Homo sapiens: one gene and its partners. The protein of the gene in region 1 purifies or fractionates together with the protein of each later gene. This does not show direct contact. Each region holds a gene or a part of one and is shown in the gene's direction. Other genes may lie near its edges.

The links.
Region 2: the proteins of MTBP (region 1) and ZEB2 purify together in Homo sapiens (co-immunoprecipitation; one large-scale study listed by IntAct). This does not show direct contact.
Region 3: the proteins of MTBP (region 1) and CDK19 purify together in Homo sapiens (affinity purification with western blotting; 2 studies listed by BioGRID and IntAct, with this or other methods). This does not show direct contact.

The regions. Positions count from the first base shown.
Region 1 is NC_000008.11:120,521,248-120,524,261, forward strand, and holds the end of MTBP (mdm2-binding protein), read left to right. Parts: intron 1-1,406; coding exon 1,407-1,472; intron 1,473-2,050; coding exon 2,051-2,089; 3' UTR 2,090-2,389; downstream 2,390-3,014. UniProt on the Homo sapiens protein: Inhibits cell migration in vitro and suppresses the invasive behavior of tumor cells. May play a role in MDM2-dependent p53/TP53 homeostasis in unstressed cells. Inhibits autoubiquitination of MDM2, thereby enhancing MDM2 stability.
Region 2 is NC_000002.12:144,517,196-144,521,339, reverse strand, and holds the start of ZEB2 (zinc finger E-box-binding homeobox 2), read left to right. Parts: upstream 1-1,220; 5' UTR 1,221-1,401; intron 1,402-1,665; exon of another isoform or gene 1,666-1,726; intron 1,727-3,920; 5' UTR 3,921-3,989; coding exon 3,990-4,062; intron 4,063-4,144. UniProt on the Homo sapiens protein: Transcriptional inhibitor that binds to DNA sequence 5'-CACCT-3' in different promoters. Represses transcription of E-cadherin. Represses expression of MEOX2.
Region 3 is NC_000006.12:110,668,830-110,672,484, reverse strand, and holds part of CDK19 (cyclin-dependent kinase 19), read left to right. Parts: intron 1-1,943; coding exon 1,944-2,054; intron 2,055-3,655.

The DNA.
Region 1 (3,014 bases):
GGAAAGCTGAGCAAATGAAAAAAGCTAACAGGTAGTTAACAGGATAAATAGAATATTGGAAGAAAGATAAATTATAACCATAATACATTAATTAGCACACAATTGAAAGTATTTACATAGATACAATAGTGTAAACACTGCCTATTTACAATCAAAAATTGTGGTACAACTGTTCTTCAAAGGAAGAGAAGGAAGGTTTTGTGTACGAGACCTGAATCCATCCATGACGTTCTCCCTAACATCAGTTCTCCCTAACATCAGTAGTCAGTGTCTAAAAGTGTTTAATCACCAAGTAGCAACATAAGCATAGTAGTTAGAAACATTAAGGTATAAATAAGGGAAAAACCTGAAAGAATTGAAAGTGGCTGCCTTTATGGAGCGTAACTTGGAAGTACAACAGATAACTGCTTCTTATCTTTTTAAATACAATTCCATTTCTTTTACTTTGTAATAATCACTAAATTTTTAAAAGTGAGACATCAGCTTCCTTTTGTATGTCATTCTTCTTTATGATGGAGTCAAATAGCCAAAATGAAGAAAAAATATCTTTTACCTGATAAATAAATACAAACCATATGTTTGTTTCTGGAGTAATGCAGCATTAGTGGATGCTCACGGTGGAGGATGGGAGAGTAATGCAGCATTAGTGGATGCTCACGGTGGAGGGTGGGAGAGTAATGCAGCATTAGTGGATGCTCACGGTGGAGGGTGGGAGAGTAATGCAGCATTAGTGGATGCTCACGGTGGAGGGTGGGAGAGTAATGCAGCATTAGTGGATGCTCACGGTGGAGGATGGGAGAGTAATGCAGCATTAGTGGATGCTCACGGTGGAGGGTGGGAGAGTAATGCAGCATTAGTGGATGCTCACGGTGGAGGGTGGGAGAGTAATGCAGCATTAGTGGATGCTCACGGTGGAGGGTGGGAGAGTAATGCAGCATTAGTGGATGCTCACGGTGGAGGATGGGAGAGTAATGCAGCATTAGTGGATGCTCACGGTGGAGGATGGGAGAGTAATGCAGCATTAGTGGATGCTCACGGTGGAGGATGGGAGAGTAATGCAGCATTAGTGGATGCTCACGGTGGAGGATGGGAGAGTAATGCAGCATTAGTGGATGCTCACGGTGGAGGGTGGAAGTTATTTTAGGTCAGCTCTATTGGGAATAGGAGAGGAGAGTGAGATGGACTTATGTATATGTGTATGTATTTTGGTTAGAGTATTTTGATATTTCAGAATGGAACTAAATTATAATCTAGTACTTAGATTTTTTTTGTTGTTGTAGTCTGTCCCTAATCACATTAATACGTGTAGAATGATTTAGAATAATCTCAAGTGTATTTAATAATAATGAGTTGTTCTTTGTAATTTAATGTGCAGATTGTAAAATGCTGTATTTTATTATGTTTAGGATCTTAAAACTTCAAGGGGTCTATTTGAAGAAATGAAGAAAACAGCAAACAACAATGCTGTACAGGTAAAGAAATTATTCCCAAGAAACTATATTCAATTAAATTGGTATTTTATTTCAGGGTTGCTCTGATGCCATTATATATGCAGCAGTAATCAGTTACTGGTCTTTTTCAACTCTGTCCCTATGAAAACTCTTTAAGAAACTTCATAGGCTTATTTAGGCTGAGTATTTCATAGTATTTAGTAGATTGCTCTGTCAGCAAAAGAGTTTCTAAAGTGACACTAAGAAAGCAAAAGAAAAAATAAATTAGCTGGAAAAACCAATCCATTTTGGTTAGCTGTTTTCAAAGTTTAGTTTAGTTTATTTGATTGACCATTTGAAACATATTTTCATATAAAGGTGAGAAAATGGAGCAGAATCTTCATTTCATCCAGTGAGAACATTATTGTACTCAGTATTGGAAGTCCAACAAAAATGTTCTTCCATTAGAAAATAAAATGTGTATTTAAGTATAAGATTTCAGTATCTTCCTTTTTATTTGAAATTTTCTACCATGTTCTTTTGAAGTTTTTACAATATATTTTTCTATTACTTGTGTTTTCAAGAGAAATCTTCTGTAATCATATTTTTTCTCCCCCTAGGTGATTGACTGGGTATTAGAAAAGACAAGCAAGAAATGATACATAATCATTCTCTTTAAGACAATTATAAATTGGATGGAGCTATTATTCACTACTTCTTTTCTTAGTTTGAAAATTATAAACAAATTTTAAGCTTTATTCAAAGAATAGATGTTATATTTCTAAAGAATTTCATGAATATATATTCTATATTTGTATAGTTTGAGGGATGCTATGTTAATGTATTTTTAATTAGATACATATTTTGTAAAGTGTTACTATATTTTAAAGTTATTTTTATATGTTTTAAAATGTTTACTCTTATTTAATTATTACAATAAACAGAATTTTTTTTTTTTACTTTTTGGATTTCATGTCTTTGTTGTTAGGTGTACTAAGTTAGGCCTGCCTTACATTTCTTAGACTTAAGTAAGATATTGCCAGTGGCTTTTCCCATGTGTTCCAACAACATAGTTTATTGGACTGCTCCCAATTTAGAGCGTATTGGCAAAAAAAATGCAAACAGGCCTCAGCCCTAGAGCCACCATTGTTGGGGCTATTAATGTTCATTTGGTATCAAAAATGAAGAAACAAGATAAATTGTGAAAATAAGACATAATGAAAATGACACTAAGTACAGTCTCCCAGGAAAAAAATTGTCTTTTCCCATGGTAGAAAATTTGGAAAATGCAGAAAATACAAGGAAGAATGAAAAAAAATTACCACATTCCCCCCTACTGTCTAGACATAACTGCTGTATTTTAAAAATATATGTAATTATTTTTAAATACTTTCAAAATTGGAATCATATAATATGTTGTTATGCATATGTGTGTATGTGTGTATTAATTAATAACCTGCTTTTCACATAACAATATGTTGTGAATTTTATGTCATTATTTTAATAACTGCCTAATGCAAATGAACCACAGTTTGTTTAATCACCCATTATTGGACATAAAGATTCTGTTTTTCCCTGTAACAC
Region 2 (4,144 bases), on another chromosome or scaffold:
TGAATTGGTTAATAATGTGCAGTACTTGCTAAATTGCTGACTTCCAGATGTGGAAAATATCTTTCTTGTTTAGGACCTATGTAACCTGATTGGATTACGACAGAAGCGTCACGTTGGAAGCTTTTGAGTGATTATTTAATTAACCATACAGTAGAAAGCTGTATTCTCCAGGAAATCCCTTCCATATTTGCATAACCAATCCCTTCAGAGCAAAGGTGGAGTCTTTTCTTTTTAATCTTACTTTAATTGTAATATCAAAAAATATATACTCCAAAACTTAGACCCCATGCCGTTTAATATCATGCTCTCCCTTCCCTGCTAAGTTTCTCTATGGCCTTTCTCGTTTCTCCTCCTGCCTCCCTACACACTCTCCCTTACTTTGTAGTGAGGTCTCCCCGAGGTGTAGAGAGATTCAGAGATCGGCCAACCGAGTGTTCTATTTTAATTTACTTAGAGACCCTTTATTAAAATGCCAAACTACTTTTTAATATTGGGATCCAGTCCAGAAATTCATCATGCACACACCCTAATACACATGCCCTAAGATGCAGCTCCCATGCAGCATTTTTTTTTCTGGCTCTGGTACCTAAAAAGAAAAAAATAACAATAAGAGAAAGGGCAGAGAACTTTGTTCCAGAAGCTGTACTGAGATACCTACACAATTTGATGTGCATCTCAAATCTGGTCATTAGAGATATCTGTATAAGAAGAGACTATCTGGATTGAGGACCCGGGATCTTTCCCTTTAACTTTCGCCCCTTGGAGTTCTCCAGTTCTGTGAATGGTGTGCACCGTTTTCCGCCCTGTACTCTGTAGGATTTAGTGATGAGGATAATGATGCCAAAGGCTTGACGGGCGGGGAGGGGGGGGTGGAGGGGGGGAGAAGGGAGGGAGGGGGGAGGGAGGCGAAGGCGAAAGGGAGGGAGAGGAGGAAGGGAGGGAGGTGGAATTTCATTTCTTCCACTAAAGCGTTTGCGGAGACTTCAAGGTATAATCTATCCCAGATCCTTTCCCAGAGAGAAACTTGGCGATCACGTTTTCACATGATGCTCACGCTCAGGGCGCTTCAATTATCCCTCCCCACAAAGATAGGTGGCGCGTGTTTCAGGGTCTCTCGTCTCTCTCCTACAGAAAAGAAAAAGAAAAAAATGTCATTAGAAGAGGCGTAACACGTCAGTCCGTCCCCAGGTTTGTGTTTCCTGGAGTGGCCGAAAGAGATCAGTTCTAACCTGCTCTGCAGGAATAACGGTCCTGCCTCCCGACACTCTTGGCGAGGTTTTTGTACAGTTTGCTCCGGGAGCTGTTTCTTCGCTTCCACCTTTTTCTCCCCCACACTTCGCGGCTTCTTCATGCTTTTTCTTCTCACCATTTCTGGCCAAAACTACAAACAAGACTTCGCAGGTAGGTTTTTTTTCCTCCCCTTTTCTCTCTTTTTATCCCTTTTTGGTGTGCTCGTCCTCCATCCTCCTTTTCTAATTTTCTCATTTTGAGTGGGGATGTGAGTCTGAAGTGAGAAGGGGTGTCCGTGGGTAGGAATTTCAGGTGGGTTTAGCTCCTTTATGGCAAGCTTTTCTCAAGAGTGGCTTCTTCGCTTTCTCTTACACTCACACTCTCTCTCCTTGCTTTTCTCTCCTTTTTCCCTCCCCCAAATAATTTCCCCTGTACCTGTTCATTCAGGTAACCAAAGGTGTCCTTTGCTATCCAGCCCAGGAAAAGTTTTATTGAGAATTATATGGCTGGAATAAAAACTCATCAAGGGGAGAGGTCCTGCTCTATTTTCGCATCTAGTTCCAATTCATTATATTCAGCAATTAGGACTTGGCAAATACCTGTTAATAATTACAAAACTTGGTCAGTTACAGACCTACAAATTCGGGGGCAAGTCTTTCTCTTAGACATGGCAGTTCATCCTCTCCCACCGAGAAGGCTGTTTTCTAAGCAGAAAGTTGTCTGTTTTTGTCTGCTTAGCGAGTTTCATTTCTTTATTTCATTCTTTGTGTGTGTATGTGTGTGAAGTAACACCTCACTTCTGTGATTATAAATAAAGAAGTGAAAGTCCTCATGGAACTTGAGTCGTTTACCAAAGTGGAGGGGGGGGCACTACAGCTGGGAAGAAAACTGCTGTCAGGATATCAGGGTTTTAAATTAGGATAACTTTTAAAATTGTATTTTTAGTGGCAAAGTAATATAGACATGGATTTAATAGAAGACACATACACACATATATCCCATTCCATACTTTGGCACTGAAAAGTCGAGAGAGAGATAGCAGGAGTTCCCAGGAACAGTGATGAGCCCGGCTAACATGAATGTGTTTATCTCCCACCTACTGATATATTTTACATGCTCCCCCTGTAATGATGAAGGCAAGATTACTAACTCCAGACTTAGGAGTAACAGGCAAAGATAAAGTTTACAGCACAAATGCCCTGTCTCTCTCTCTCACACACACACATGCCCATAAAACTAGCAACTTACTTTATTAAACATGTATTTATATGCAGTCGTGTGTCTCAGGATGAATATAGACAGGCCAGCTGTTTCATCCCAGACACTTGTGTGACCATTTCTTTATTTCAGGATTTCCCCTAACAATTTCAAATCAATAGGACAAGGAAAGAAATGATAAAATATGTCAAACTTAAAAGTCTCCTACTATGTATGCCTAGGTAAATTTAAGGTGCTTTCTAAAATATCCACTTCCCCTTCTCTCTGCCCCCCTCCCTTCACCCCTCTCAGCAAATGTGTGGAAACTGATACTCACTTTCCAGGTTTTCTGCAAAGCTTCTAGCACAGGAGACAATAGGTGTGGGGCGTGGGGACTGAGTGTGCCCGGCAGAGAAAGGGTTAATGGCCCTTGTGTTACAGTTTGCATCTGTTACATCTTTTATAGCCCCCTGTTTAAACTAATCCTCGAGGCACAGCATCTTCCCAACCTCCACCGAGTTTTCAGGATTCTCCTCCTCTCCTGCCTGCCTCCGAGGTCCCCCTTCTCCAAGTTTTGACAGTTTCAACTGAAAAAATGCAGCGCCTCTCTCGATTTTTAGGTACAAAAGTTTCGAAGCCAGAAAGGATACGATCATTTAGTAGAGCTTAAAAGTATTGCCGTAGTGGTTGGACTTTCTCTTTCCTTTCTTAAGGGAAAAAAAAAATTCTACTGGAACTATTTAAGGGAACCAGTGTGGGGGAGCATGTGTGTGAGTGAGGTGGGGGGAAATACTTAAGTAAATATTGTCAAAGTGGCGAGGGGGGGTGGGGTAAAGGACAGTGTCCAAAGAGGCTTATAATTATATTTATCATTGCGGCGTAAAACGGGAAATCTTAATTTGGGGGCGAGGGTGGGGGGAGGAAGAGACAGTGCCTCGATAAACTCCAAAAGGGGAGGGGAGGGGGCGCTGGGCGAGTGGGCTTCCTATAATTACTATTATCAATTTGCCCGAGTGTGCTTCATCCAGGGGCTGTTTCGCGTTGTTTGTTTGTTTGTTTCCTCTGGGAATTGGGGGGTGGGGGGATGAGAAAAGATGAGAACGAAAAGAAAACCTCGCCTCACCCCAAGTTCCCGAGCCGGGGGCTGAGGACTTTTCGAAGGAAAGGGTCCGCCTAGCCCTGAGTCAAGCGGTCTTACTGTACCGCCGTGTGCATTCCCTCATACGGTCAGGAGTTATGACTCATTTTGAAGATGTAATTCTTGTCTCTCTGATCCCCTCGCGGGTGCAACACACCAAACAGTAACAAACACAAAGCGCCTCGGGGCCAAGGCTGGGGGTGGGGGGCGGGGAGGGGGCCGCCGAAGTTTCGCTTTGGCGTTGGGGGGCGCGGATGGGTGCTCGCCGGGGCCCTGGCCCGGCTCCCCTGGGCGGCCCGCGCGCGTTTCAATGGGCGCGGGCGATGCCCACATTGTCGCTGTGTTTGGTTGCTAGATCGAGCCTGCGTGCTGCCGAAGCAGGGCGCCGAGTCCATGCGAACTGCCATCTGATCCGCTCTTATCAATGAAGCAGCCGATCATGGCGGATGGCCCCCGGTGCAAGAGGCGCAAACAAGCCAATCCCAGGAGGAAAAACGGTAAGAAGCAGCCCGAACCAAACTTTTCCGGGCCACTACGCGGCTCGAGACCCAGGGAGAAGGAGGGGGAAAGGGAAAAGGA
Region 3 (3,655 bases), on another chromosome or scaffold:
CAAATTTTTTAACACAGGACTTAAAATGAATTTATTCTAGTGGGATCAACAATTGGAAGTCACAGAAAATGTAGTTTTTTAGAAGTGTTGATTAAATATTGCTACTGTGACAACCACTTTCCCAGACAAGTGAGGTCCAGGAATCAGGGATCTGTGCCAGTGTTGGGTGTTTCAAGAGCCTGGTTTAGATGCGGAAGTGGAGTTCTACTTTCCCATCTACTTCAGGCTGCAAAGAGAACATATTTTGCATAGGTAATAAAGGCAAACTCTCTACGTTCATCAATATCAAGGAGTCAGAAAGAAGGAGACAGTCATTGTGCCTGGGGTGAAGTCTCTTGCCACAGTGTAAGTGCTTCAAGGCTGGCCATAGCAATGGGGTCATTAAAAACAGGGTTTGCCAGAGCCAGAGATCCTGAAGTGTTCAAAATGGCAAACTCTCTAGATTTTGGGAGGCCAAGGTGGGCAGATCACTTGAGGTCAGCAGTTTGAGACCAGCCTGGCCAACATGGTAAAACCCTATCTCTACTAAAAATACAAAAATTAGCCGGGCATGGTGGTGCGTACCTGTAATCCCAGCTACTCAGGAGGTTGAGGCAGGAGAATTGCTTGAACCTTGGAGGCGGAGGTTGCAGTGAGCTGAGATTGTGCCATTGCATTCCAGCCTGGGCAACAGAGCAAGACACTGTCTAAAAAAAAAAAGTTACTAAAGTTATTAGAATGGGTAAGCAGTTTATTTTTCTCTGCCTCATTGATCTATTTATATGTCTGTCTTCCTTACCACATTGTGGGAATTGAAGACATGAACTTTAGCTGTAGTGGAAAAAGCATGGACTTTGCAATCAGGCAGATCTATTTAAGTCCAAACCCCTTCTCTTTCTAGCTATTTGACTTTGGTCATGTTATTTTTATCACACTGAGCCTTGGGTTCTGTGTGCATCATAAAATTGTTCTAAAGATTAAGTGAGAGAAAAACATTTGTATATAATCATCTTGCACATATAAAATATTCAAGGGAAGTTTTGTCTTTCCCTTTTTGCATCTTTCACAGAGCTTTACATTTAAAAGGTATTCAAAATATTTATTAAATTGAATATGTTTCTCTTTACCTGTGAAATCTGAACCCTGTTTAAGGACAGCCTGAGGGAGGCATATTTCTAAGGCTTTTACCTTGAGCAATAATGTCATTGTTGCTAAATATTTTATCAAACAGCTGTCTGTTATGCGCAAAGTGCTGTTTCTGCTTGCTGCTCTGGTCTATCTTTCCTACATATCGTCAGAGTCCAGCTTAAAGCTTTTACTTTGTGAAGTCCTATTTCTTTTTTTCTGTTTACAGGACCTGTTCTCAACTTCAGTTTTTATAAGTGGGCATGACAGTCATTCCCTTATACTCACTACTCTTCAAAAAAAAACCCTCAACCACATACTCTAGGGATGGATAAGTACAGGGATTGTTAAATATCTTTCCTTGTTTTGTCGCCTGTTTCTTGAGCACCAATACAGTGCTAGGGTAGATATAAGCAGTATTAATACATGAGTCCTGCCTCCCAAGGAACAGTTTCTTTAGTAAAAAAGATATGCATGTACAAAAATGTAATTAATTATTTAATGATATGATATTACTTTTGTTTGCTGTTTTACATTTTACCATTTAAAATCCTATTTTTAAAAACACATTCCTGCTTGCAGTCTCTGACAAGAAAGAAAGTAAAACAAAACAAAACAGATATACCTAAGCACATAGAAAAAGGATTGGAAAGATATGCACCAAGATATTGACAGAGCTTATCTCTGAATGCCAGTATTTTGGGTGGTATTTTTTTCTTTCATTTTGCTTACCTGGATTCTCTAGATTTTCAGAAATTTCGTTTTGAAGTTATAAGACATTCATCATTTCCCCCTCCTTGCTAACACAACAGTGACCCCTCTCTTTCTTTTGCATTCAGCTTTTGCGAGAATTGAAGCACCCTAATGTGATTGCATTGCAGAAGGTGTTCCTTTCTCACAGTGACAGGAAGGTATGGCTGCTGTTTGATTATGCAGAGCATGACTTGTGGGTAAGTATAATCTCACTGTATTTCTAGGATTGTTTTATATAGGTATGGAGCATATTTATATAAAATACATATTGTTAATGCACAGAAAGGAAAGCTTGCTCTGTTAGCCATATTTCAAAGTCAATATAAACATAAATGTTGATTTTGAAGAATTTAAGCAATAAACTCACATTTTACTGAGAAGATAGTATTTGTAATATTTAGAAATTTTACTTCAGAAAGATTTTAATGAATGGGAGACTATACTTTTTTTGGCCCGGGGGAGACGAACGGGGAAGGGAGTTTTGCTCTTGTTGCCCAGGCTGGAGTGCAGTGGCACGATCTTGGCTCACTGCAACCTCTGCCTCCCAGGTTCAAGCGATTCTCCTGCCTCAGCCTCTTTAGTAGCTGGGATTATAGGCATGCACCACCATGCCTGGCTAATTTTGTATTTTTAGTAGAGACGGGGTTTCTCCATGTTGGTCAGGCTGGTCTCGAACTCCCAACCTCAGGTAATCTGCTCACCTCGGCCTCCCAAAGTGCTGGAATTACAGGCGTGAGCCACCATGCCTGGCGGGAGACTATACTTTTATGCAAGTAATTAATGGCAGTTTACTAATATGTATAGTGAAGATTGCTTTAAGGATGTTTTTATCAACGTATGAAAGAAGCAAAAAATTCTAATTCCTGTCTTTTCAAATTAGGAATCAGAACATTTAAACACTTTATCTGAGGAACTGCTAAAAGTAACAAACTTCAAATCTGGCACTAAGTTAAAATTATGGATAATTAATTTAGCACCACTATGCCTGGCTAATTTTTCAAAAATGTTTTATAGAGACAAGGTCTTGCCACCTTGCACAAGCTGGTCTTGAACTCCTGGGCTCAAGTGATTTTCCTACTTTGGCCTCTCAAACTGTTGAGATTATAGGCATGAGCCATCACACCCAGCCTTTTTTGTTTGTTTGTTTGTTTGAGACAGGGTCTCGCTCTATCACCCAGGCTGGAGTGCAATGGCACAGTTATGGTTCACTGCACCTTTGACCTCCTGGGCTCAAGCGATCCTCCTGCCTCAGCCTTCCAAGTAGCTGGGACCACAGGTGCATGACCACACCTGACTAATAAATTTTGATTTAATATAATGTGGTTTGTCATCTATATAAGTTATAAATCTGTTGAGGAATAACTTTAACAGACTCAGGTCTTAAAGAAACTTTCAGAGTGTATGCTATTATAGCAGATATGGACAAGAATTTCCAGTGTGTTTTTTTTGTTCAATTCTTTTCATGGATATTCACAGACATTGTATTTTCTCCATTTTTCTATATTCCCCTATATGTCAACCAAGGCTTACTGGACAGTGTATGTACTTTACTTTGAACATCAGTGGGGTGATGAAAGAAGATGATGTTGTACATTGGAATAGTCAGATCCTGTAGAACTGTACTGTCCAATACCATATTTCAAAATAAATATAATCATAAATGTTGATTTTAAAGAACTTAAGCAATAAACTGACATTTTACTGAGAAGATAGTATTTGTAATATTTAGAAAATTCACTTCAGAAGTATCTGAAGTGCACACATTGATTTTACCTGTTTCTTTTTTTTTTTTTTTGAA